7 linked regions of the Homo sapiens genome follow. The protein of the gene in region 1 purifies or fractionates together with the protein of each later gene. This does not show direct contact. Each region holds a gene or a part of one and is shown on either strand. Other genes may lie near its edges. The genes, in order: SLC15A2, SCFD1, NAALAD2, EPHX1, ATL3, DHCR7 and ALG1.

Evidence for each region.
Region 2: the proteins of SLC15A2 (region 1) and SCFD1 purify together in Homo sapiens (affinity purification with mass spectrometry; one large-scale study listed by BioGRID and IntAct). This does not show direct contact.
Region 3: the proteins of SLC15A2 (region 1) and NAALAD2 purify together in Homo sapiens (affinity purification with mass spectrometry; one large-scale study listed by BioGRID and IntAct). This does not show direct contact.
Region 4: the proteins of SLC15A2 (region 1) and EPHX1 purify together in Homo sapiens (affinity purification with mass spectrometry; one large-scale study listed by BioGRID and IntAct). This does not show direct contact.
Region 5: the proteins of SLC15A2 (region 1) and ATL3 purify together in Homo sapiens (affinity purification with mass spectrometry; one large-scale study listed by BioGRID and IntAct). This does not show direct contact.
Region 6: the proteins of SLC15A2 (region 1) and DHCR7 purify together in Homo sapiens (affinity purification with mass spectrometry; one large-scale study listed by BioGRID and IntAct). This does not show direct contact.
Region 7: the proteins of SLC15A2 (region 1) and ALG1 purify together in Homo sapiens (affinity purification with mass spectrometry; one large-scale study listed by BioGRID and IntAct). This does not show direct contact.

Annotation. Positions count from the first base shown.
Region 1 is NC_000003.12:121,925,401-121,928,900, forward strand, and holds part of SLC15A2 (solute carrier family 15 member 2), read left to right. Parts: intron 1-2,357; coding exon 2,358-2,439; intron 2,440-3,020; coding exon 3,021-3,155; intron 3,156-3,500. UniProt on the Homo sapiens protein: Proton-coupled amino-acid transporter that transports oligopeptides of 2 to 4 amino acids with a preference for dipeptides. Transports neutral and anionic dipeptides with a proton to peptide stoichiometry of 2:1 or 3:1.
Region 2 is NC_000014.9:30,625,319-30,628,818, forward strand, and holds part of SCFD1 (sec1 family domain-containing protein 1), read left to right. Parts: intron 1-2,890; coding exon 2,891-2,961; intron 2,962-3,500. UniProt on the Homo sapiens protein: Plays a role in SNARE-pin assembly and Golgi-to-ER retrograde transport via its interaction with COG4. Involved in vesicular transport between the endoplasmic reticulum and the Golgi.
Region 3 is NC_000011.10:90,176,163-90,179,662, forward strand, and holds part of NAALAD2 (N-acetylated-alpha-linked acidic dipeptidase 2), read left to right. Parts: intron 1-1,690; coding exon 1,691-1,955; intron 1,956-3,500.
Region 4 is NC_000001.11:225,830,624-225,834,123, forward strand, and holds part of EPHX1 (epoxide hydrolase 1), read left to right. Parts: intron 1-1,155; coding exon 1,156-1,336; intron 1,337-3,500. UniProt on the Homo sapiens protein: Biotransformation enzyme that catalyzes the hydrolysis of arene and aliphatic epoxides to less reactive and more water soluble dihydrodiols by the trans addition of water.
Region 5 is NC_000011.10:63,654,377-63,657,876, reverse strand, and holds part of ATL3 (atlastin-3), read left to right. Parts: intron 1-3,500. UniProt on the Homo sapiens protein: Atlastin-3 (ATL3) is a membrane-anchored GTPase that mediates the GTP-dependent fusion of endoplasmic reticulum (ER) membranes, maintaining the continuous ER network. It facilitates the formation of three-way junctions where ER tubules intersect.
Region 6 is NC_000011.10:71,438,394-71,441,893, forward strand, and holds part of DHCR7 (7-dehydrocholesterol reductase), read right to left. Parts: intron 3,048-3,500; coding exon 2,834-3,047; intron 2,444-2,833; coding exon of another isoform or gene 2,393-2,443; intron 691-2,392; coding exon 486-690; intron 1-485. UniProt on the Homo sapiens protein: Oxidoreductase that catalyzes the last step of the cholesterol synthesis pathway, which transforms cholesta-5,7-dien-3beta-ol (7-dehydrocholesterol,7-DHC) into cholesterol by reducing the C7-C8 double bond of its sterol core.
Region 7 is NC_000016.10:5,070,488-5,074,642, reverse strand, and holds the start of ALG1 (chitobiosyldiphosphodolichol beta-mannosyltransferase), read right to left. Parts: upstream 2,801-4,155; 5' UTR 2,794-2,800; coding exon 2,586-2,793; intron 2,396-2,585; exon of another isoform or gene 2,340-2,395; intron 1,693-2,339; coding exon 1,615-1,692; intron 1,491-1,614; coding exon 1,387-1,490; intron 1-1,386. UniProt on the Homo sapiens protein: Mannosyltransferase that operates in the biosynthetic pathway of dolichol-linked oligosaccharides, the glycan precursors employed in protein asparagine (N)-glycosylation.

The sequences.
Region 1 (3,500 bases):
TCTCCTGTTGTCCCTACAAAACAAATGGGGAACCTAGTAGGACTGGGGACTGAATTATTCCCAATTACTGCCTGAAATTTTTTCTAAATAGAAGGACTAGTCTTTTTTAGAGTTTGGCAAAAGAAAGTTTCAAGCCTTCTTTCATTCTTGATTTAATAGCAATTTCATTGTGATGACCACTTTACCAGATGAAAATGGCCCTTTGTCATTTGTTCATTGAGCAAATGTTGGGAAGTTTAGGACCAAGTGTCATGAAAATATAAATCAAGCAAAAAAAAAAACAACATTTCCCTCAAACAGTTTATTACTTAGTAAAGGGGCTAGACTATATATATATATATATATATATATATATATATATATATATATATATATATATATAAAATACAACTACTACACAGGTAAAATAAGTGTCCTAAGAAGGGAAGATCAAGTGCCAAGGAGAGGTAGAAAAGAAAAAGTCCCTCCCCTGCCAAAGCCAACAGATTTCTGCAGAGGAATGTGAGGTAAAGCATGTACAGCACTTGGCATATGGCATTTGTTCAATAAACCTGATTGTATTGCCATTATTTTTGGTGTTATGACATAGCGAATAGAAAAACCATCATAAGCAAAGATGGAGGTGGGTAAATGTGGTGTATCACAGAGAAGAGCAGTTCAATGTGACTCAAGAACAAGAAGAAAGAAGAATGTATGAAGGGGAGTTCTAGGAAATCCCTTGAAAAGTAATTGGTCATGGAAACATGGATTTAAAAAAGGAAAGTAATTGGGATCAAATCAGGAAAAGTCTTTGATGCAGTTTGAATATTTGTACCCACTCAAATCTCATGTTGAAATGTAATCCCCAATGTTGGATGTTGGAGGTGGGGTCTGGTGGGAGGTAGTCGGATCATGGGGATGAATTCCTCATAAATGGTTTAGTGCTATCCCGTTGGTGCTGTCCTTATGATAGTGAGTTCTAGTGGGATCTGACCATTTAAAAGCATGTAGTATCTCCCTACCCTTCACTTGCTCCTGCTTTCACCATGTGACATGTCTGTTTCTCCAGAGGGTACAAGCCATAAACCTTGGTGGCTTCTACATGGTGTTAAGCCTGCAGGCATACAGAGTGCAAGAATGAAGAATGCTTGGCACCCTTCACCTAGATTTCAGAGGCTGTATGAGAAAGTGTGGGTGTTCATGCAGAAACCGGCTGCAGGGGTGGAGCCCCCAGAGAGTACCTCTACTAGGGCAGTGTGGAGGTAAAATGTGGGGTTGGAGCTCCCACACAGAGTCCCCACAAGGACACTGCCTAGTGCAGCTGTGAGAAGGGGGCCACCATCCTCCAGACCCCAGAATGATAGACCCACTGGCAGCTTGCACCCTGGGCCTGGAAAACCACGGGCACTCAACAACCTGTGAGAGCAGCCACAGGGGCTGAACTCTGCAAAGCCACAAGGGTGGAGCTATCCAAGTCCTTGGGAGCCCACCCCTTGTATTGGTGTGCCCTGAATGTGGGACATGGAGTCAAAGGAGATTATTCTGGAACTTTAAGATTTAATAACTGCCCTGCTGTGTTTCAGACTTGCCTGGGGCCTGTAGCCCATTTGTTTTGGCCAGTTTCTCCCTTTTGGAATGGGAATGTTTACCCAGTATCTATACCCCCATTTTATTTGGGGAGTCAATAAGTTGTTTTGATTTTATAGGCTCATGGGTGGAAGGGACTTGCCTTATTTCAAATGAGACTTTGGACTTGGAACTTTTGATTGAGTTTGTGCTGGAATGAGTTAAAATTTGGGGAACTATTGGGAAGATATAATTGTATTTTGCAATGTGAGAAGGACATGAGATTTTTGGGGGGCTAGAGATGGAATGATATGGTTTGAATATTTGTCCCTGCCAAAATCTCATGTTGAAATGTAATTCCCAGTGATAAAGGTGGGGCCTGGTGGGACATGACTGGATCATGGGAGTGAATTCTCATGAAGGGTTTAGCACCATTCTGTGGTGCTATCTTCATGATAGTGAATGAGTTCTCACAAGATCTGGTCATTTAAAAGTGTGTGGCACCTCCCATCTCCTCGCTTGCTTCTGCTTTCACCATGTGACATGCCTATTCCACCTTTGGCTTCTCCCATGATTGAAAGCTCCTCGATGCTTCACCAGAAGCTGGAAGATGCCAGCACTGTGCTTCCTGTAAAGCTACAGAACCATAAGCCAATTAAACTTCTTTTCTTTATAAATTACCCAGTCTCAGGTATTTCTTTACAGCAATGCAAGAACAGTCTAATGCAGTCTTTAATAATAGGCTACAGAGTTTGGATTTCATCCTTTAGAGTCTAAAGTTTAGATATAATTGTTTCTCCTTTCCACCACAGATCACTTAGGAAAATGGCTGTTGGTATGATCCTAGCATGCCTGGCATTTGCAGTTGCGGCAGCTGTAGAGATAAAAATAAATGTGAGTTCAGTAATTCTTAAGCTCTATGAGGGCAGGATCATATCTTTCTTATTTGCTCTTTTGACTTGTTCAGTCATGATTCCCTGGGACCTAGCACAGTACCTGTTTTATAAGAGGTGCATCATAAGTATTTGTGATAAATAAGTAGATACAGGGGTAAAACAGCAATGCAAAATGAGGCCCACCTCCCACCTGAGTGACTCAGAATGTATTTTCAGGGAATTCTCAAACACTAATATCCAAGAGAGCCCTCTCCTTAGGGAACACAGGCTTATGTGATGCCTTTCTACATACTCAAGTAAAAACCTTTTGGCAGATTGAATAGCCACTATTACGGATGAGGCCACAGCTGAGTCAAAAAGCATCGAGTTTGTAAGCTGGCATTGGTACTTGCTACAATGAGCTGATGTTTCCCTCTCCAAGCTGCCTTTAGAGTTTTCTAAGCCAAATATTTTTCAGAGGGAGAAAACTATGTCTACTTGGCTAGTGGACTAGGCTGTCAGAAACAACTGAGATATGTGTTGCCATTGTATCTGAAGGATTATTTGTTGGTGATTCTGACATGTGTTCTTTGCTCTAAGGAAATGGCCCCAGCCCAGCCAGGTCCCCAGGAGGTTTTCCTACAAGTCTTGAATCTGGCAGATGATGAGGTGAAGGTGACAGTGGTGGGAAATGAAAACAATTCTCTGTTGATAGAGTCCATCAAATCCTTTCAGGTGAGGTGTGTACCTGAATGAATTAGAAACTCTGTATGCTATATTGATCTTGATTTTTCCTTAACATTAATTGTATCATAAGCATCTTCCCATGTCTTTAGATAATCTTTGAGCACATGATTTTAATGGGCATATAATATTCCATTCTATAGATATACCATAGTTTATTTAGACATTTCCACATAGGTATTCCGTTTTTATTATTATACATAATCCTACAATGAACATTCTTATTCATAAATATTTATGCATGGCTCTGATTATTTCTTAGGGTAAATTCCAAGAAATAAAATGGCTAGGTTAAAGAAAGGAATTACTAGGTTGAAAGTGTCTGATGAGGTCACC
Region 2 (3,500 bases), on another chromosome or scaffold:
TGTTTTTGATTTTGGAATATTTGCATTATTACTGGTTGAGCATCCCAAATTTCAAAATCCGAGCACCAGCTTAAAAAATTTTGATTTTGGAGCATTTCAGGTTTCAGATATTAAGACTTGGGATGCTCAACCTGTAGTATATTTAGAGCCAATAAGAAAAATGGTTTGTCATTTCAGATAAAGTCATGGTTTAAGCCTTGGGTAAACTCTGATAAAAGTAAAATTACGTTCTTGTAAACTCTGAACACAGGCCGTGTACTCCATTAACAAATCCTTTTTGTTATAGGTATAGGTATACCTATATAGGTATAGGTATATAGGCATATAGGTATACCTATATAGGTATAGGTATATAGGCATATAGGTATACCTATATAGGTATAGGTATATAGGTATATAGGTATATAGGTATATCAATAGGTATATTGATATAGGTAAAAGGTATATCAAAATACCTTTTAATAAGTTAGCCAAGGCTCAAAGTTGGAGAAAATCTCAGACTGGGCTGAGAAGGCGAATGTAGGATTATCTTATTTGCTGCTGCTGGCCTCTTTCAGTTAGCTAAGGCCTAACTGTGCAGCATACTAAACACCTGAGGCTCACATGGCAGCTCAGGCTTTCGTTCTTCCAAGTTGTCAGGCTTCAAGAGTGTGAACAGCTGTTCCCAGAAACAGGGTTTCCTCCCTCTTGGGCGTGAGTGCCAGGGTGGTGGTGTCTTTATTGCCTGGAGGTGGAGGAAGAGCTCTGCAAATGCACAGTGGGAGAGTTAATCCTGAAACCCCCTCCGTGCTTCCTGTGTTATTTCAGTTTTAAGTGTTAAACTGTTTTTTTGTTTATATTAAATATATTTAATATTATAAATACATTAAATAAAATACATTTTTATTTAATGTAAAACCTGTGGGCCTCTGAAGTAGGTAATATTGGTAATGTGTATTTTTGGCTGGACATTAGGTAATAACATTTTACCAAAAATTATGTCTGTAGGTGTATGGTAAATACACCTGATAGCAATAACTTAAGCGTGCCCTGAGAATGACCCTGTATTGCAGACACACCTGGATATGTGTTTCAAGCTAGGGAATCAAAATGGCCCACCTGGAGATTCATTCCTTGTCTGTGAGGAACATCTGAGCCCCCAGCCCATCCAGTGAAACATAGGCCATGCAGTGGATCAAGGCCCCGAGTTTTGGGTTGAATGAAGGTTGCCAGGTGGAGGTTGTTAGGGAAATGTTAAGTGAAAATGCTGTATAAACCACATTTTTGCTATATAAACCACTTTTTGCATGCAGTTATGGTTCTCCTGCCCAGCGCATTGCCACTGAGTATACAGTTCTCCTGTCCAGCCCACTGTCACTGGACTCTCCTATGTGTGTTGCCCCCATTAAAACCCTGTGTCTCATTTCCTGGCTCCGGGTCTCTTCTTAGGCCTCTCAAACATGGGTATCTTCCCCACTGGAGGCAATAAGGGTTCGGCACAACAGTATGTACACACACATAAGTATGCAAATGTATCACTGAAGTACAATCTGTTCAGTAATAGCAGTTTTAACAGCATTATACCTACCTCAGCAAGCAAGCATTTAATAGAAGTTTTTCTTGTGAGTGAATGAATATGCTGTAAGTTGATATTCAGGTGATTTTAGTATTACATAGTTCTCTCGTAGGACTTTGGAGTATAGGTTATTCTGTATTACTTAAAGCCTGATGCAAATGTTTTTAACAATCAACCAAGTGGATTTTAAGGCTGTCAATTTTATAAAAATTAAATCAAGAAATTACAACTAGTATACTCTCTTGAATATTTGGCCATCTCAGTTTCACGAAGAAGTATATTAAGGGATTTTCATTTTCTGTAACACTGTTACAGATGAGTGATAAATAACACAAAATACTGTAACAGACCCGTAACTGTGATTTTTGATGTTGTATATTTGCTTAGCTGGAATTATCAGTTATCTACTATATGGGAAAGTCTGTTTTCCCAAGGGACATAGAATTTTAAGCAACTTTTCGGTGAATCTGACAGGATAAATTGTTTGTAAAATATACTCTTACATAACTATAGACAGATCTGTATGAAGGTTTTGTATATGAACCAATTGAATATGCCATGGATAATTTTGTTTTTAGAAAGACTGATCCAGGCCGGGCGTGGTGGCTCACGCCTGTAATCCCAGCACTTTGGGAGGCCAAGGCGGGTGGATCACCTGAGGTCGGGAGTTCTAGACCAGCCTGACCAACACGGAGAAACCTCATCTCTACTAGAAATACAAAATTAGCCGGGCATGGCAGCGCATGCCTGTAATCCCAGCTACTCGGGAGGCTGAAGCAGAACTGCTTGAACCTGGGAGGCAGAGGTTGTGGTGAGCCGAGATCACGCCATTGCACTCCAGCCTGGGCAACAAGAGCGAAACTCTGTCTCAGAAAAAAAAAAAAAAAAAAAAAAGAAAGACTGATCTTTCTCACTAGGCCACTCACACTTAAAAAAAAAAACAGACAGACAGACTGATCCTTCTCACTAGACCACTCAGACTTAAAAAAAAAAAAAAAAAAGACTTACCTTAATCTATGCTTTCAGCCAGACAGTACACAGGCAACAGCATCAGTATATTGAGGCCATTGCAAGTTCTTCCTGAACATTTCCCGCGATTTCATCTGTGGACAGATGCTTATTGTGTTTTGGGAAATCTCCCAAATACATGTCAATTAGCTGTCGATGGAATAGTCTTACAAGATCTGACCCCTAGTTCTACACATATAGTCATTTGGTTAATCAGTTTTACTAGAGTTGATTAGTTTATTTTGCTTTGGGGTAGTGAATGATGATGGAGGAAAAATAAAATCCTAAAAAACAATGACAATATTTGATAAAACTTTTTATTTTCAGTGGCTTTGAAGCGTATGTTGAATTTCAATGTGCCTCATATTAAAAACAGCACAGGAGAACCAGTATGGAAGGTAAGAGTTTATCTTAATGGGAACTGATTTCTGTTTTTCTCAGCCCTTATTGGTGGTAATTGGAGGGAATTTATTGTAATATGGAAGAAGTAACACATATTAGTTATCATGAATGTTTTATCCTTATTTAACATGATCTCTTAATATGAATTGTTTTGACAGACATTCTATGGAGTGAGACAAGTGATAAAATAGTAATTTTCATCTAGGGAGTCCAGTTGATCTCTTTGGTAGGATGTCACTGATAGGTCTTTTTCCTGGTTGATATTTTGTTCCTTAGCTTTTCAAGTCCAGACTTTGGATTTTATAAGCTTGCTCGGAGTTAGTCACATTCAGAGGGCCTGGATTATTTTAACAAACTCATGAGAAAATGATCTGTAAACTGTAATACCACTTTAATAATTTATGAGATATAAAACTTAATTGAACCAGAAAGCAATCTACAATCTTTTCCTTTGAGAAATACTGGAGAGCCTTTAAAAATTCCAATTCTTTAGGCTTCTTCATTTTAAACTTCATGCAGACTCTCTTTCTTCAGA
Region 3 (3,500 bases), on another chromosome or scaffold:
CCTGGGAAGAGTTCCCAGGGATAGAGATAGACTGCATGTCCCTTTCCAGATGGACAAGGAAGCAATTTGAGTAATTTTGTGAAAATTTCATTGTTAGGGTTAATCAAATAAATGGTGATTCACAGAGTAATGCCAGACACTTATCTGGTTAATCAGTACTAAGTAGTTCACATCCTTTTCCTGATTTGTCAGAAAACTCTCATTCTCTAGACTAGTCTTGCAGGCTCTGATGTACTTTTCATGAGGATAAATGCAGTTGGAGAACATATTTTGGTCAAGAGGAGCATTAGGGTAAGATTCATTATTGTCGGTAGCTCCTCTTCATATTGCCACTTCTGCCTGTCACCTGAGTCAAGGGTTCTTGGTTGGGAAATAAAGCAAGTTTCTCTTTTAACTTGATCCCCTTTTCTGTTCTGCACTGACTGGTTTGCACTACTGTCACACAGACATCCTGATGATATGCAGGTACTTGGATATAACCAATATATACCATGTTTGCTCATCAATGTTATAAATTATTTCATAAACCAAATTGAAGATTACAGTAGCAGACACAGATTTGTCATAGATTTTAATCAATCTTCAAATCATAATTACAGTACATCTAAATCTTGCTTGCCCATTATATGTATATCACTTGCAAATTTGACTGTTCAGAATACAACAAAGAACAAAGAAATAAAAGCAACCCCAGAGTAACCCAAAATAGATAAACTCAGAATGCTTACATTCATTACAATTAATACATAAATGATGTGTTTTAACTCTTTGTCAAGGCCTGTTCACTTTTATACTCTGTCTTCTGTAATTTGCTCAAAGTTATCTAGTTTCTAAGACCACTTTAGATTAGAAGCAGATAATTAGATAGAAGGAGAAGGACTGATAAGGAGATTGCTTTTTAGTGATACTAACAGCAGTAAGAACGATAGCCATACAAGGTGGCAAATAATAAAAACTAAAATTAGAAAAGGCAGACCGAAGAACTAAAAAGAATATTTATACGGGATACTACTATGTAATAATTCATATTCATAATGGTACCTTAATTATGTAATAAAGCTTAAATGACATTTAGATATACACTGTTTGAGAAGGAAGGGAAGTTACTTAAATAAATCATCCTTAAGCTGTGTACTTAGCTGCCCAGAACCTTTTTTTTTTTTTTACCAATCAATTGATAGATAACTTTGAACTATGCTGAGGTGCAATTTGAATATGTATTCCCTAATTTTAGTTATCGAAGATACAAGGAGAAAATGTTCAAGGTGTAGCATCTTGAATGAAGGTTACATAAATTATAAAACAAATAATGAGAAAATTTTTAAAACCAGTGAATATTTGGCTATAGTGTTTTCGTTATTAGCGTTTTGCCTCCTTGTGGTAAAACTCAGGGTGTTATATGGTTGTATTTTTTCTTTTTCTTGTTTTTTTTTTTTTTTTTTTTTTTTTTTTTTTTTTTTTTGTATTTTTAGTAGAGACAGGGTTTCTCCATGTTGCCCAGGCTGGTCTTGAACTCCTGAGCTCAGGCAATCCACCTGCCTTGGCTTCCCAAAGTGCTAGGATTACAGATGTGAGCCACCATGACTGGCTGGTTGTTATTTTTTCTATAGTTATTTTTATGCTTACATAAAAATATTATAACTTGAATATTTAATGTTTATTTATACTTGCCTCTCCATTTTTTTTTCAGAAAACAGATAAGTACAGCAGCTACCCAGTGTACCACACAATTTATGAGACATTTGAATTGGTAGAGAAATTTTATGACCCCACATTTAAAAAACAACTTTCTGTGGCTCAATTACGAGGAGCACTGGTATATGAGCTTGTGGATTCTAAAATCATTCCTTTTAATATTCAAGACTATGCAGAAGCTTTGAAAAACTATGCAGCAAGTATCTATAATCTATCTAAGAAACATGATCAACAATTGACAGACCATGGAGTATCATTTGGTAAGAAATAGTTGGGCAGATATTTTACAGTCTTTAAGTTAGAGCTTTAAGATATTATCTCCTATGATGATCAATGCATATTGTTTCATCCTAGAATACATATTTGCCTTACTTATTTTGACTTCTACACAAAAACTTAAAACAAACACCTATTAAAGAATCTGATTTAATCTGGCATGTATAGAATGAATCCATTATGGCTGAGTTATTACCACAAACATTGGGATGGTAAACATTTTTCTTGTATTATGGCCTTTAAAAACATTTTTACTGGCTGGGTGCGGTGGCTCACGCCTGTAATCCCAGCACTTTGGGAGGCTGAGGCGGGCAGATGATGAGGTCAGGAGATCGAGACCATTCTGGCTATTATGGTGAAACCGCGTCTCTACTGAAAATACAAAAAACTAGCTGGGCATGGTGGTGGGCGCCTGTAGTCTCAGCTACTCGGGAGGCTGAGGCAGGAGAATGGCGTGAACCTGGGAGGCAGAGCTTGCAGTGAGCTGAGATCGCGCCACTGCACTCCAGCCTGGGCGACAGAGCAAGGCTCCTTCTCAAAAAAAAAAAAAAATTTACTGTTATAGAAACAATATTAGAAAAATGTAACATTATTTGCAAAAGATTGAGAAAGCCACAAATACTATTACATACGTATTTTTAATTATTGTCAACAAAATGATTATTACTGCATATATCTTTTAGTGTTTGTCTATATGAAACATTTTTTCCATGGTTATAAGTATACTTTCCTTTTATTAATGACTGTTTAGTGGTTGCTCTTCTGCATTGTGCATCTCCTATACAGCAAGGATGACTCATAATGCAGTGTATGTAGTAGCATTGAGGATTGAGTTTGGAAGTGGTTTGCCTGGTTCAGATACTAGCTTTACCAGTTCTTCGTTATGTGACCTTGGGAAAGTTACTTAACTTCTCTATGTGTTAGCTTTCATACAATTAAAAGATAAAAAAGAACATATCATGTTTCAAAGATCATTGTGGAGATTCAGTTTGGTAATATATAGAAGCTGTGGTGGGTAGCACTTAGTGCTCATTAAATATTACCTATTACTGTTTTATTACAAACATTGTCTTTTATTATTCTGGGGGCACCTATTTTTAGTATATACCCAAATTATCAAATATGCCCTGAGTTTCTACTGTGTACCAAGTACTATGTTATTACCTGGGAGATATAAATGTGTACAAGGCATGGTCATAGTCCTAAGAAAGCTTAAAGTCTCATGTGGGGAATAAAGCAATATACAGATAATAGGTTACTATGGGGCTATGTAGAGAGTACTATAAAAACACAGAAAATGGGTATGGAATAGTAATGACTTCTGAATATTATTATATAAAGGATTAGTAATCTTTATATAATATTATATACAGGATTAGTAATAATAGCAAATACTATGGTCTAGAAAAAAAATGAAGCAAATAAAATGTGTTTATATCAATACAATTGGAGTATCTCTGCAGTGATGGGGGAAATAAGGAGAGATAAAACCAGAGAAATAAGCAGAGCCTACAGCAAAATGGACATTG
Region 4 (3,500 bases), on another chromosome or scaffold:
CTGGCTAATTTTTGTATTTTTAGTAGAGATGGGGTTTCGCCATGTTGGCCAGGCTGGTCTCGAACTCCTGACTTCAAGTGATCCACCTGCCTTGGCCTCCCAAAGCACTGGGATTACAGGCGTGAACCACCGTGCTGGGCCTGGCCTGTAATTTTTATCCCAACTCAGTTATAATGTATCATTCAATGTTGTATATCAGGGGTCAGGAAACCAGGCCCATAGACCAAATGTAGCCTGCTACCTGTTTTAGCACAGCGCCCATGCCAAGAATAGTGTTTACCTCTTTAAATAGTTAGGGGGAAAAAAATCAAAAGAAGAATAATAGTTTGTGACGTGAAAATTATATAGCAGTCAGATTTCAGTGTCCATAAATTTTTATTGGAACACAGCCACCCCCATTCATCTGTGCATTGGCTATGGCTGTCCATAAATAAAGTTTTATTGGAACACAGCCACCCCCATTCATCTGTGCATTGGCTGTGGCTGCTTTCACACTATGAAGACAGTGGAGTCACTGCAGCCTGCAAAGCCTAGAATATTTACTATCTGGCCCTTTACAGAAAAAGTTTGCCGACTCCCGCTGTAGAGACGCCTGGGTAAATTAAAGATGAGTATCGTGTATACACTTAAAGAGTAAAAGATGAGCTGGGCGCAGTGGCTTACACCTGTAATCCCACCACTTTGGGAGGCCAAGGCAGACAGATCACTTGAAGCCAGGAGTTCAAGACCAGCCTGGCCAACATGGCAAAACCCCGTCTCTACTAAAAATGCAAAAATTAGCCGGACATGGTGGCTCACACCTGTAATCCCAGCTACTCTGGGAGCTGAGGCATGACTGGCTTGAACCTGGGAGGTGGGGGTTGCAGTGGGCCGAGATCACGCCACTGCCCTCCAGCCTGGGCAACAGAGTGAGACCCTATCTCAAAAAAAAAAAAAGAAAAAAGAAAAAAGAAATGCGAAGTCTACAGTGAAGAAGGAAGAAGTGAAGAACACATCCGCTTTGGGAGTAGCCAGTGATGTGGGAAACTGCCTTGCCACTCCCAGAGGGCAGTATCTTGTGGCTGCAGGGTTTGCTGTGTTTTCTGGAAACAGACTTTGCTCTTGTGCTCTGTCCTTCCCATCCCTCTCAACTTGGGGTCCTGAATTTTGCTCCAGGACTTACACCAGAGGATCGATAAGTTCCGTTTCACCCCACCTTTGGAGGACAGCTGCTTCCACTATGGCTTCAACTCCAACTACCTGAAGAAAGTCATCTCCTACTGGCGGAATGAATTTGACTGGAAGAAGCAGGTGGAGATTCTCAACAGATACCCTCACTTCAAGACTAAGATTGAAGGTATGTTTGCAAAACGCCAGCCAGAGAGGGATGTATGTCATGAGAACAGCCTTCTTCCACAATGTGACTTACAGTCAGATAAAGTTGGAGAGATTCAGAACCCAATTATAGGTGACTGAGATGTACTTATACGTTGTAACCTTACTAAATGCAAAAATATTGCAGTCACAACAAATCTGTCCATCTTTAGAGCTAGGCAGGAACACATACATGCAATTTAAAAACCAAAGAAATGCACCATCCAGTCCAATGATGTGGCAATCTTTGAGAGGAAGGATGGAGATGAGATTTAGACCCAGGCCAAGTGGGGTGGCTCAGAACTGTAATCCCAGCACTTTGGGAGGCTGAGGTGGGTAGATCACGAGGTCAAGAGTTCAAGCAGCCTGGCCAAGATGGTGAAATCCCATCTCTACTAGAAATACAAAAAATAGCCAGGTGTGTTGGCAGGCAGCTGTAATCCCAGCTACTCTGGAGGCTGAAGCAGAGAATTGCTTGAAGCCAGGAGGCGGAGGTTGCAGTGAGCCAAGATCGCGCCACTGCACTCCAGCCTGGGCTCCATCTCAAAGAAAGAAAAGACTCTGCTCTCAGTTCTTTTGGATCTATACTCAGAAGTGGACTTGTTGGATCATACGGTAATTCTGCGTTTAATTTTCTGAGGAACCGCCATACTGCGTTCCGCAGCAGCTGCACCATTTTACTTTCCCACCCAACAATGCCTCAGAATCCCGATTCTCCAAATCCTTGCCAATATTTTTTTCCTTTCTTTTTTTCGGTAATGGTCATCCTAATGGGTATGAAATGGTATCACATTGTGGTTTTGAGTTGCATTTTCCTAATGATTACTGATGTTGAGCATTTTTTATGCGGTACTTATTGGATTCTTTGTAATTTCTCCGAAGAAATGTCTGTTCATGTCTTTTGTCCATTTTTTGGGTGTTTTATTAGGGTTTAGGAGTTCTCTATATATTCTGAATAAAATCTCTTATATTTGCAAATGTTTTCTCCCACTCTGTGGGTTGCCATACAATTAATCTTTTTCAGAGACAAGGTCTTGCTGTGTTGCTCAGGCTGGAGTGCAGCGGCTATTCACAGGCGTGATCATGGCTCACCACAGCCTCGAACTCCTGGGCTCAAGCAATCCTCTCGCCTCAGACCTCCTGAATAGCTGGTACTATAGGCGAGCACCACTGTGCCCAGCTTGTTAATTTTTTATATTGAAGAAATTGTACATGTTAGGAATCTTATTTTTAATGTTTTAAGATAATTTGGCCTTTTCAAGGAACAGTGAAGATTTTAATTTGTTAAAATTCTAGGAATTACTTAAAGTGTATGAAAGACATGTTGGTCAGTCAGATAAACTAAAGTTCCTAAAAAAAGGAAATTGAAATTATAGTGTTAACTGGGTGTGGTGGCATGCACCTGTAGTCCCAGCTACTCAGGAGGCTGAGGCAGGAGGATTGCTTGAGCCCAGGAATTCAAGGCTGCAGTGAGCTACAAGGACACCACTGCACTGGGTGACAGATCAAGACCCCATCTCTTAAAAAAAGAGAGAGAGGCTGGGCACGGTGGCGCACGCCTGTAATCCCAGCACTTTGGGAGGCTGAGGCAGGTGGATCACGAGGTCAGGAGGTTGAGACCATCGTAGCTAACACGGTGAAATCCTGTCTCTAATAAAAATACAAAAAATTAGCCAGGTGTGGTGGCGGGTGCCTGTAGTCCCAGCTACTCGGGAGGATGAGGCAGGAGAATGGCGTGAACCCAGGAGATGGAGCTTGTGGTGAGCTGAGATCACACCACTGCACTCCAGCCTGGGCGACAGAATGAGACTCTGTCTTTAAAAAAAAAAAAAAAAAACAGGCTGGGCGCCGTGGCTCACGCCTGTAATCCCAGCACTTTGGGAGGTCAAGGCGGGCAGATCACAAGGTCAGGAGATCGAGACCATCCTGGTCTAACTTGGTGAAACCCCGTCTCTACTAAAAATACAAAAAATTAGCCGGGCGTGGTGGCAGGCGCCTGTGGTCCCAGCTACTTGGGAGGCTGAGGCAGAAGAATAGCGTGAACCCGGAAGGCGGAGCTTGCAGTGAGCCCAGATTGCGCCACTGCACTCCAGCCTGGGTGACAGGGCAAGACTCTGTCTCAAAAAAAAAAAAAAGAAAAAAAAAAA
Region 5 (3,500 bases), on another chromosome or scaffold:
TCAAAAAAAAAAAAAAAAAGCCAATGGCATTTTTAGTTTCATATTGTGTTTTCCACTGGTATATACCTGTTGATTTGTTTGTGTCTTTTATGAACTGTTATTTTCTGAAATTTTTTTTCAATAAAAGGAAGGAAGATGTGAAAACAACTTTTTATCAAAGTGAATGATTTAAAATTAATACATATTGATTGTTTTTAAGATTCTTAAATAAAATGCATGAATATAGTTTAAAAGGTCAGGTACTACTGTAAGGCTTCTAACAGAAAGCAGCTGTCATGTGTGTTATTCTCCTCTCTACCCAGTTTTCACTTCCCAGAGGCTGATGCTCTTATGTGTTACCACTTCTGTTCTTTACTTCCTTACTCCTGTATGGGTGGCACAGACCTGGCTGTTGTTCTGGGAGTTGAGCAGGGAAATGGCATTGGGGATCTCACTGTTCAGAAGGTGGGCATTCACTATCCCCTAGCTATCAGTAGGGCTTCTTAGCCCCAGTCTCATCTATGCCTTGTAAGCTATGGGCATAGAGCCTCTCCACAGATTTCTTTGTAAGGATCGGGAGGGGTAAGTCATGTGTTTCTTATACAGACTTTCATCCATTACTTCTGTTTTTAGCCCAATCCTATAAGCATGCCTTCACACCTGTTTGTCCTTTTTTTTTTTTTTTTTTTGAGATGTAGTCTCACTCTGTTGCCCAGGCTGGAGTGCAGTGGCACCATCTTGGTCACTACAGTCTCCGCCTCCCAGGTTCAAGCAATTCTCCTGCCTCAGCCTCCTCATTAGCTGGGAGTACAGGTGCACACCACCATGCCTGGATAATTTTTGTATTTTTAGTAGAGACAGGGTTTCACAATGTTGGCCAGGCTGGTCTGGAACTCCTGACCTCGTGATCCGCCTGTCTCAGCCTCCCAAAGTGCTGGGATTACAGGGGTGAGCCACCACACCTGGCCACCTTTGATATTTTGAAGTGCTGGAGTGTTGGTACTGAATTCTTTTAGCTTTCATACATCTGAAAAATCTTTATTTTGCCTTTGTTTTGGAAAATATTTACTCTTAGTGTAGAGTTCTAGGCCAACGTATTTTTCTCAGTACTTCAAAGGTGTTGCCCCTTTGCCTTTTTGCTGACATTGTTTCTTTTTTTTTTTTTTGAGAGGGAGTCTCTCTGTTGCTCAGGCTGGAGTGCAGTGGTGCGATCTCGGCTCACTTCAACCTCTGCCTCCCGGGTTCAAGCAATTCTCCTGTCTCAGCCTTCTGAGTAGCTGGGACTACAGGCGCGCACCACCACGCCTGGCTAATTTTTGTATTTTTAGTAGAGACGGGGTTTCGCCATATTGGTCAGGCTGGTCTTGCACTCCTGACCTCAGGTTATTCACCTGCCTCTGTTTCCCAAAGTGCTGGGATTACAAGCATGAGCCACTGTGCCCAGTCTGCTGACATTGTTTCTGACAAGAAATACACTGTTATTCTTATTTTTGTTCTTTTGTACCTAATCTGTCTTTTTTGTCTGGTTGCTTTTTTCTTTAAATTAAAAAAAATTTTATTTTCGTGGGTACATAGGTATATATATTTATAGGGTATGTCTGGTTGCTTTTAAGATTTTATCACTGTTTTTGAGCAAATTATTATGTGTTTTGATGTAGTTCTTTTTTTTTTTTTGAGACGGAGTCTCACTGTGTCGCCCAGGCTGGAGTGCAGTGGCGTGATCTCGGCTCACTGCAAGCTCCGCCTCCCGGGTTCACGCCATTCTCCTGCCTCAGCCTCCCAAGGAGCTGGGACTACAGGCGCCTACCACCACGCCCGGCTAAGTTTTTGTATTTTTAGTAGAGACGGGGTTTCACTGTGTTAGCCAGGATGGTCTCGATCTCCTGACCTCGTGATCTGCCCGCCTTGGCCTCCCAAAGTGCTGGGATTATAGGCGTGAGCCACTGCGCCAGGCTGATGTAGTTCATGTTATTTGTATGTGGGTTTTGTTGAGCTTCTTGAATCTGCAGATTTATAATGTTTATCAAATTTGGACATTTTAAGGTTATTATTTCTTCAAGTTTTTTTGGTCTGTTACTCCCTTTGGAGACTCCTATTACATGTGCCTCTTGCTGCTTGAAGTTGTTCCACAAGATGTTCATTTAAAATTCTTTGGCCGGCGCGGTGGCGCACGTCTGTAATCTCACACTTTGGGAGGCCGAGGTGGGTGGATCACCTGAAGTCAGGAGTTTGAGACTAGCCTGACCAACATGGTGAAAACCCATCTCTACTAAATACAAAAAATTAGCTGGGTGTGATGGGTCATGCCTGTAATCCCAGCTACTTGGGAGGCTGAGGTGGGAGAATCGCTGGAACCCGGGAGGTGGAGGTTGCAGTGAGCCGAGATCGCACCATTGCACTTCCGCCTGGGCAACAAGAGCTAAACTCCATCTAAAAAAAAAAAAAAAGGCCAGATGCGGTGGCTCACGCCTGTATTCCCAGCACTTTGGGAGGCTGGGGTGGGCGGATCACCTGAGGTCAGGAGTTCGAGACCAGCCTGGCCAACATGGTGATGCCCTGTTGCTACTAAAAATACAAACATTAGCTGGGCGTGGTGGCGCCCACCTGTAATCTCAGCTACTTGGGAGGCAGAGGCAGGAGAATTGCTGGAACCTGGGCGGCGGAGATTGCAGTGGGATTAGGAAGAGTACTCAGTCTTGCCTCAGTAATGAGGAATAACAACACTCTGGTTCCATTTAACAAATCTAAACAGCAAGAACAGAAAAAACCAGAGTTTCCAAATTACTTAACTACATCTCAGAATAAAGCTAGATATTTTATAGGAATGCAAAAATAACCAGCACCCAACAAGGGAAAATCCACAAGTCTACATCCTATCAAAAATTTGCAGACATAAAAGAAGCAGAAAAATATAACCCAAATGAGGAGAAAAATCAATCAAAACTGTCTCAGAACTAACACAGATATTAAAATTAACAGAAAACAACTTTTTTTTTTTTTTTTAGACAGTCTTGCTCAACTAAAAATACAAAAATTAGCCGGGTATGGTGGTGTGCACCTGTAATCCCAGCTACTCAGGAGGCTGAGGCAGGAGAATCGCTTGAACCTGGGAGGTGGAGGTTGTGGTGAGCCGAGGTTGCGCCATTGCACTCCAGCCTGGGTGACGAGCAAAACTCTGTCTCAAAAAAAAAAAAAAAATAGGCCAGACATGGTGGCTTAGGCCTGTAATCCCAGCACTTTGGGAGGCCGAGGTGGGTGGATCATCTGAGGTCAGGAGTTCAAGACGAGTCTGACCAACGTGGTGAAACCCTGTCTCTACTAAAAATACAAAAATTAGCCGGGCATGGTGGCTCATGCCTGTAATCCCAGCTACTCGGGAGGCTGAGGCAGGAGAATCGCTTGGACCTGGGAGGTGGAGGTTGCAGTGAGCCAAGATCGTGCCATTGTACTCCAACCTGGGCAACAGAGTGAAACTCCGTAATCCCAGCACTGTGGGAGGCTGAGGCGGGCGGATCATGAGG
Region 6 (3,500 bases), on another chromosome or scaffold:
ACTTTCTGGGTCTTGCTGCTTTTAAGATAAAGAGGAAGACTTCCATGAGGCCTCCAGCCTCACCTGGCTCTGAGCTCCTGAACGCTCTCTGGTCAGGATGCGGGATGTTTCTGAGTGTCCCAGACTTGCCACCCTCTCTCCCTACAGGGGGTTCCTGGAGCATGCACTCTTGCCTCCACTCTACCAGGTTAACTCCCACACACCCCCAGATTCTACCCAGGTGTAATCCCCAAGGGAGACCTTCCTGGACCACGCCTGGCTGCGTAGAACCTGCCTCCTCCCCTCCCAGGGCTGGCAGAGACAGGCACCCAAGGATGGCTTCCTTCACCAAGTGCTCGCCGGCTGCTTCCTGGTGACACCTGGGGAGGGCAGCTGACTCTCTTTTACAAGCAGTAGATTAAGGTCATGGGAATACGCTCTGGCTTGCGGGTTCCCCCAGAGCCTGCCGGCATCGGCGTTTCACCCTCTCCAGCCATGACAGGCACCTGCAGGACGTTGACCAGGACCATGGCATTGGTCACATGGCTGTGGAGCTCCCGCTGCTTCGCTGCGAAGGACAGGTTGATGAGGGTCCAGGCGACGATCCCGGGGCGCCCATTGAAGAACAGCTTGAAGTCAAACCACTTCCCGATCCGAGGGTTAAACTCGATGCCCATCATGTAGTTGTAAAAGAAATTGCCTGTGAATTTGCTTAAAAATATAAATAAAAGATACATTTAGTGGATGAGCATATCTCACAAGATGAAGCCACCTTACTTAGCGAGAGCCCAGCACTGGCCCAGGGTCCTAAAGGGTAACGTGAGACGGCGCAGGCAGAAGCTGGCCATGAGCCGCTGGGACCCCCACGGCTGGAATGCTTGTCGGCTGGTTCCTGGCGCCCTCATTCACTTTGCTTTGCATTCAGCTGCTGCTCAGCAGAGACTTCCTTAGGCAGAAGCCCAGGGGCACCTGCTCTGCACCCGGGAAGGGTGGGAGACCGGCCCTGGGCTGGTACCTGGGTTTCTCTCTACCCTTCTCCAGATGCCCTTGACGCATGGCACAGGTGAGCTGAAGAACTGGCTTGATTGCACTGAGATTACGTTCTGGGGCCCAAGCACACGGTTTGAAGCCGACGCAGGGCACGTGGGCCCTCATGGGTGAGTGACATTATAAATCACGCCAACGTAGAGAATGACAAACGCACCCTGGGCCCGGCTTCCAGCATGTGCAGGACAAGTTCTTTGACCAGTTACCTGAATCCCCCAATCCCCGGAGGGCCAGAGCATCAGCCGAGATAACCCCTGTGGAGACCCTGACTAGGTCTAGCTGGCTGAGGACACACAACAATTTCTGTGTTAACTAGAAAATCCTATTTTCATGTCCAGTTCCCTCAGGTAGGGTAAGTAGAAAGAAGCAAAACACACAAAGTCTACATGATTATAAGGTAGCGAGGATGATTTCCAGGAGCCATTGAAGGCCAGCCTCGTTATCTGATAACACACAAGCTACAAAGTGTCATCCTCCAGAAACATTTCCCAAGAGCCTAGGTGTAAACCACACTGGGGTTTTTTGGATCCCCCAAACTGAACTGTAAGTCCCACTGCCTACAACTGTCCACAAGAGAACCCCCCAAACATTGGTTTATGATGGATGGATGGATAGATAACAGGGTGAGTGGGTGGAAGGATGGATGAATGGGATGGGGAGAGGAGCAGGTGGATGGATATATGATAGGCAGGGTTGAGCTGGGGTGCAGGGTGGCAGGGATCAGGTGTGTTCAGAAGTGTCACCCAGGAAGCCAGAGGGAGCAGGCTAGGAGGGCCTGAGAGGGTAAGGGAGGCCGGTCAGGAGCTGCGGACATTGCTCAGGCAGGAGGTTGACCTGGATGAGATGATGCATTCCTTCCCCTCGGCACATGCCATTACAGGCCCTGATAGAGTGGATGGATGGGTAAATGGATGGATGACGGGCAGGTGGATGGGTGGGTGGCTAGATGTGTAGGTGGGTGGGTAGGTGGATAGGTGGATGGACAAATAGATGACGGGTGGGTAGACAGACGGGGTGGAGGGTGGATGGGCAGGTGGATGAGATGGATGATGGATGGGTGGGTGGGTAGGTGGAAGGATGGGGAGATGGGCAGGTGGATGGGTGTGTGGCTAGATGTGTAGGTGGGTGGGTAGGTGGATGGGCAGATGGATGAATGGGTGATGGGAGGGTAGATGGATGGATGATGGGTGGGTGGATGTGGGTGATGGATAGGTGGATGGATGATGCATTGGTGGGTGGGTGAATGGGATGGGGCAATGGGTAGGTGGATGATGGGTGAGTAGGTAGATGAATGGGTAGGGGGGTGGATGGGTGGGTGGGGAGATGGGCAGGTGAATGGATGAGTGGACAGAGATGAGTGGCTCACCACTGTCCAGCCATGGGAATGGGTACAAGCCAGCAGGGCTCTCCTGGGAAGCTGTTAATTAAAGCCACAGGGACAATAAGACTCTTCACTAAGGTTGTTTTGGGCCTCACCAGCTTATCCAAAGAAAGAGGCAATGGGCTGCCTGTGCCCCAAGCCAGAAGTTTTTCCTGGCTTCCTTACCCCCACGCCAGCCCTAAAGGCAATGACTTGGCCACCACAGCTGACCTGGCCATCTTCAGCTGCATTCTTGCCAAGGCTGGAGAAGCCACCAAACATTCAGAAAGGATGTTCCCCAGGGTGAAGCAAGTTCCATCCCCCTCCTCCTCTTCCACGGATTCTCAGTGCTCAGGGCTTTACAACCACCTGCCCCAGGCAGCAAGAAAGGCCAGGGGTGAAGTTTGCACTTTCTACATCAGGCTGGACCCGCTGCTAAGAACATACCAGTCTCTGGCGCTGGTGGGGAAGAAGTAGCCCTTGACCATGGCGAAGGTGGAGACGGCATAGCCAAGGATGTTGGCGCACCACAGCAGTGGGATCCAGTTGTCGAAGATGATGGTGGGCGAGAACCAGGACAGGAGATGAGCGTTTGCAAACCAGAGCAGGTGCGTGAGGAGCCAGGCTTGCAGGCCATTGATCTGATACTTGTTCACAACCCCTGCAGATGAAGGATTCAGAAATGAAGGCGCTTTCCCAACCCGCAGTGAGGAGCTTGGCTGGGCTGAAGCATGCCTGGCGGGGGCCCTGGTCACTTTCTGGGCCTCTGCTGCTGCGGACCCTCATCTGGGGCCCCAGGAACCATCTCTGAGGCCCCTATACCCTTGGCCAAGGAACTACCTGCTCCTAGGAAGAGGGAGGGGAGGCTGAGTCCATCCTTTGGTTCTGCATCTCGTTAACTGGCCATAGGCTGAGTGACAGGTGTGCAGTCTGATAGGGAGGTCAGGGCTGAGGGGCAGAAGCAAGTGAGGATGCCCCTGTGGTATGCCTGGCCCCCTCTGTAATTGTTGGGGAGCACCTCAGCCCATCCACCCCTCAAAACAGGGAGCTTCTGGGGGCAGAGTTGGGATGCGGTTCCAGTCTGCACCCACGTGAGAGGCACAAAGCCAGGCTC
Region 7 (4,155 bases), on another chromosome or scaffold:
TGCTGGGAAGTTACCCTAAGAAAGAAACTGGACTTATACAAAAGGCATATGCTCGCTGTGCTTGGAGCCACACTATTTGTAAAAGTAAAAACAAAATCAGGAAGAATCTGAGTATCCATTAACATGAGACTAAATACATGCAGTATAGTACATCACATATTGGAATTCAAGGCTGCCTATTAAAAGAGGAAGGTGTGGGTCACGATGGTTCATGCCTGTAATCCCAGCAATCTGGGAGGCCGAGGCAGGTGGATCACCTGAGGTCAGGAGTTCAAGACCATCCTGGCCAGCATAGCGAAACCCCATCTCTACTAAAAAAAATTACAAAAATTAGCCAGGCATGGTGGCACATGCCTGTAATCCCAGCTACTCAGGAGGCTGAGGCAGGAAAATCACTTGAACACGGGAGGTAGAAGGTGCAGTGAGCCAAGATCGCACCACTGCACTCCAGCCTGAGCAACAGAGACTCCATCTCAGGAAAAATAAAAATAAATAAATAAAAGAGGAAGGTGCTTCTATATATTAAAAATTGATTTAAAAAAAAAAGTATTCTTCCTTCAGCTAGAAAAGAAAGAAAAATTTTTTAAAGAAAAAGTGATCAAGGGAAGGGATTAAAAGTATAACGATAGGCCAGGCGCGGTGGCGCACGCCTGTAATCCCAGCACTTTGGGACGCCGAGGGGGGCGGATTACCTGAGGTCAGGAGTTCGAGAACAGCCTGGCCAACATGGCGTAACCCCATTTCTACTAAAAATACAAAAATTAGCTGGGCGTGGTGGCGGGCACCTGTAATCCCAGCTACTCAGGAGGCTGAGGCAGGAGAATCACTTGAACCCGGCAGGCAGAGGTTGCAGTGAGCCGAGATCACGCCACTGCACTCCAGCCTGGGCGGCAAGAGCGAAACTCTGTCTCAAAAAAATATATGTGTGTTTGTGTGTGCGCGCGTATGCGTGCGTGTGTATACTATAGAACCACACTGACGACCTACGTTCAAATCCTGATTCCACCACTTCCTAGCTGTATGGCGATGGGCTACTTACAGAGCCTTTCTCAGTCTAGGTTTTCTCATCTAAATGAGAACAACCTTAAGAAACAGGTTCTTGTATTACCTACATGCAATATTTCTTAGGGTAACTGTGAGGACTAAATGAGTTAATACATGGAAAACACTTGATACACAGTCAGTACAATGTAAGACTATCTGTAATGACACAGAGAGCATGGATAGGTGCCATAAATAGACACATACCATAGGCTCCTACTCATGTCTTTAAACGCCCATACACACAACACACACACATATGAATATGCAATATAGTACCAATTTGTGCTGGAAAGTAAACTGCTAACATGGCTCTCACAGAGGGAGGCAGAGGCTGATACACACCTGGAGAAAGATATAGGCACCTGGCTCCCTCCACATCAACTTCCACAGCAAGTACATAGCCTGAAGTACAACTTTGACTCCGTACTGGAAAACTCGGGGCCCAACTGCAAGTCAGAAAACACCTGTGACTACCAAAGGAGCGTCTGGCAATCTGCACGGCTTTTCAAACGAACACCCCCTGCCCCCAGCCCATGGATTCAGAGGATTCTGGAGTTGACGGCATCCTACCTGCAAGACTCTGAAGTTCTGTCAACCCCACAATCTGAATTCTGTTGTTCTGCAAGAGCTCATCATGGGGTTTGGAGTCTGAAAAATGAGAATGATCCCTTTAATGTACCAGAAGCAGCAATCTAAAGTCAGATAATCTCCCAACTCAGGCTGAATCACGGACAGTGTTTTGGAAAGTAAGATATTTCAAAACCTCTCTCTGCTCCTCACTAGCCAGAACAGAGAATGCGGCCAATTCTTGTTCAGATTGCTCTAGGAGGCACACAGAGATAGGGCCTGAATCTTACCTACCTTCACTTAACATGATGCCTGGCAAACAGTAGGTGCTCAATTAAACTAATCTAGATTGTCTGGATAGTGGAATTTTCCCACCACAGAGCCATCCCTAGGAAGTCCCACTCTACCCCATCACCCTAGGATAGCAGATTCTAAACAGGGATTAAAGGCAACTAGTGCTGTTCCCACTTCTTCCTGAGATGGGGTTGAGCTACCCTCTCAAGATACCAACGTGGAGAATAATGAGGGAGCAGACACCGCTGCCCTGCACACTGTGGGGAAAAGCTGGACATGAAGAACAAATGAAAACATCTGTCTGCAGAGCTCTGCGTTGAGGGATGAGGAATGAAATATCCTGTCAGCTCAGACATAGCCTGACAAGGGTAGCTGCACAGGGACGTAGCTACCAGCACTAGCCCTGGAGTTCCACGCACCTGGGTTCCACTTACTAGGAGAATTACGTGAGACCACGCAATGGATTCACTTAACACACTTCTGACACGTGGCAAGATTAACGCCGGCTATACCTAGAGACCCACCCAGGAAAGGCTGGGGCAGAACCGCTCGTCTAATCTCGGAGAGCTGCCCAAAGGCGGCGACTAAAGGAGCACTTCCGCCTCGACTCCCCGGGGCGGTTAGAACCGAGGATCAACGGCTGAGAGAGCATCGTCCCTCCCAGACCCTTGGCCACTCACTGCAGAACCCCAGGAGGGTCACCGAGAAGCCGTGCATGGCCAACGACAGCGCGTGGTACTGCATACGGGGGCTGCGGCCCACGTCGCCCAGCACCACCGCTACTACATGCCGGGCCGCCCGCCCCCGGCGCCAGCGCTTCCATCCTCCCAGCAGCAGCAGCGGCAGCAGCAGACACAGCGCCAGCAGGACCAAGCATGAGGCCGCCATCTTGGCTGGCCCGCAGCAGTCACGTGACCGCGCTTCCTCGCGCTGTGCGCAGCCGCAGACCGAGCCTCCGAAGTGGGCCGAGAGGGCGAGAAGTGGACGCGGTTCCCTAACAGGGGCCCGGGGAACCCCCAGGAGCCCCTCGGGGCCAAGAATTAGTAGTAGTAGGACACACGCACATACACCAGATTCCCTACACACCAGTGTATTTCCCCGACTAAAGTAAAGCTGTTACTGTATTGGGATCTAAGAACTCTCTTCAGGATTCAAAGATAATTTCAAAATATAGTGACACAAGAATTTGGATAAATTTCATCCTAACATTGATAAAGGAGCCAGATGCTGACGAGTACGAATTGTAGAGTTCCGTCTATGTAAATAAAAACCAGTCCTCGCTGTTAGAAGTTAGGGGCTGGTGGGTTCTGCTTCTGGATCTGGTGCTGGTAATGTGGGTGTGCTGCATTTGGGGCGGTACCTCAAGCAGCAGATTACCTGCCCATTTTCCAGGGTGTACATCACACTTAATAAAACATTTAAAAGGTAGAGAGGGGGAAGGACAAACAAGGAAGTAAACACCATCATGATTTTGCTTAAGTATCAATGGCTAGAAAGGAAATTTCCACAGTGACCCTCCAATTTCACCTCCCAAAGTAGCCATAGTGAGAGTTTAATGTGTGTCTCTGCGATGGCCTGTATTAGTCCGTTTTCATGCTGCTGATAAAGACATACCCGAGACTGAGCACTTTACATAAGAAAGAGGTTTCATGGACTTACAGGTCCACATGGCTGGGAAGGCCTCACCATCATGGCAGAAGGCAAGGAGGAGCAAGTCACCTCTTACATAGATGGCAGCAGGCAAAAAGAGAGCTTCTGCAGGAAAACTCCTTTTTATAAAACAATCAGGTCTCGTGAGGCTTATTCACTATCACGAGAACGGCACGGGAAACACCTGACCCCATGATTCAGTTACCTCCCACTGGGTCCCTTCCACACAACACATGGGAATTCAAGATGAGATTTGGGTGGGGACACAGCCAAACCGTATCATGACCTTTTTTCTTTGAAAGCGGTCCCTTGCAGAGAAACACCAAGAGCTCACTGGTGATGCTACCCCATTGCCTCCACTTGGGAGCTGCCGCAGAACCTGGAGAGCCACCACCCAGACCGTATTCAACAAACAAACAAGACTCCTCCCCTGATGAGGACCACAGGCAGCACCCACGGGACAGGGTAGCCCACATGGATGTGGCTCCCCAGTGTCCCTGGGCTCAGCTCAGGGCTTGGCACACTTTGCATCTGCTTTTCACAATTGCCCCATCACTCCCTTTCTATGGATTCAGAAGGGACAGCTCACGCCTTAAGCCA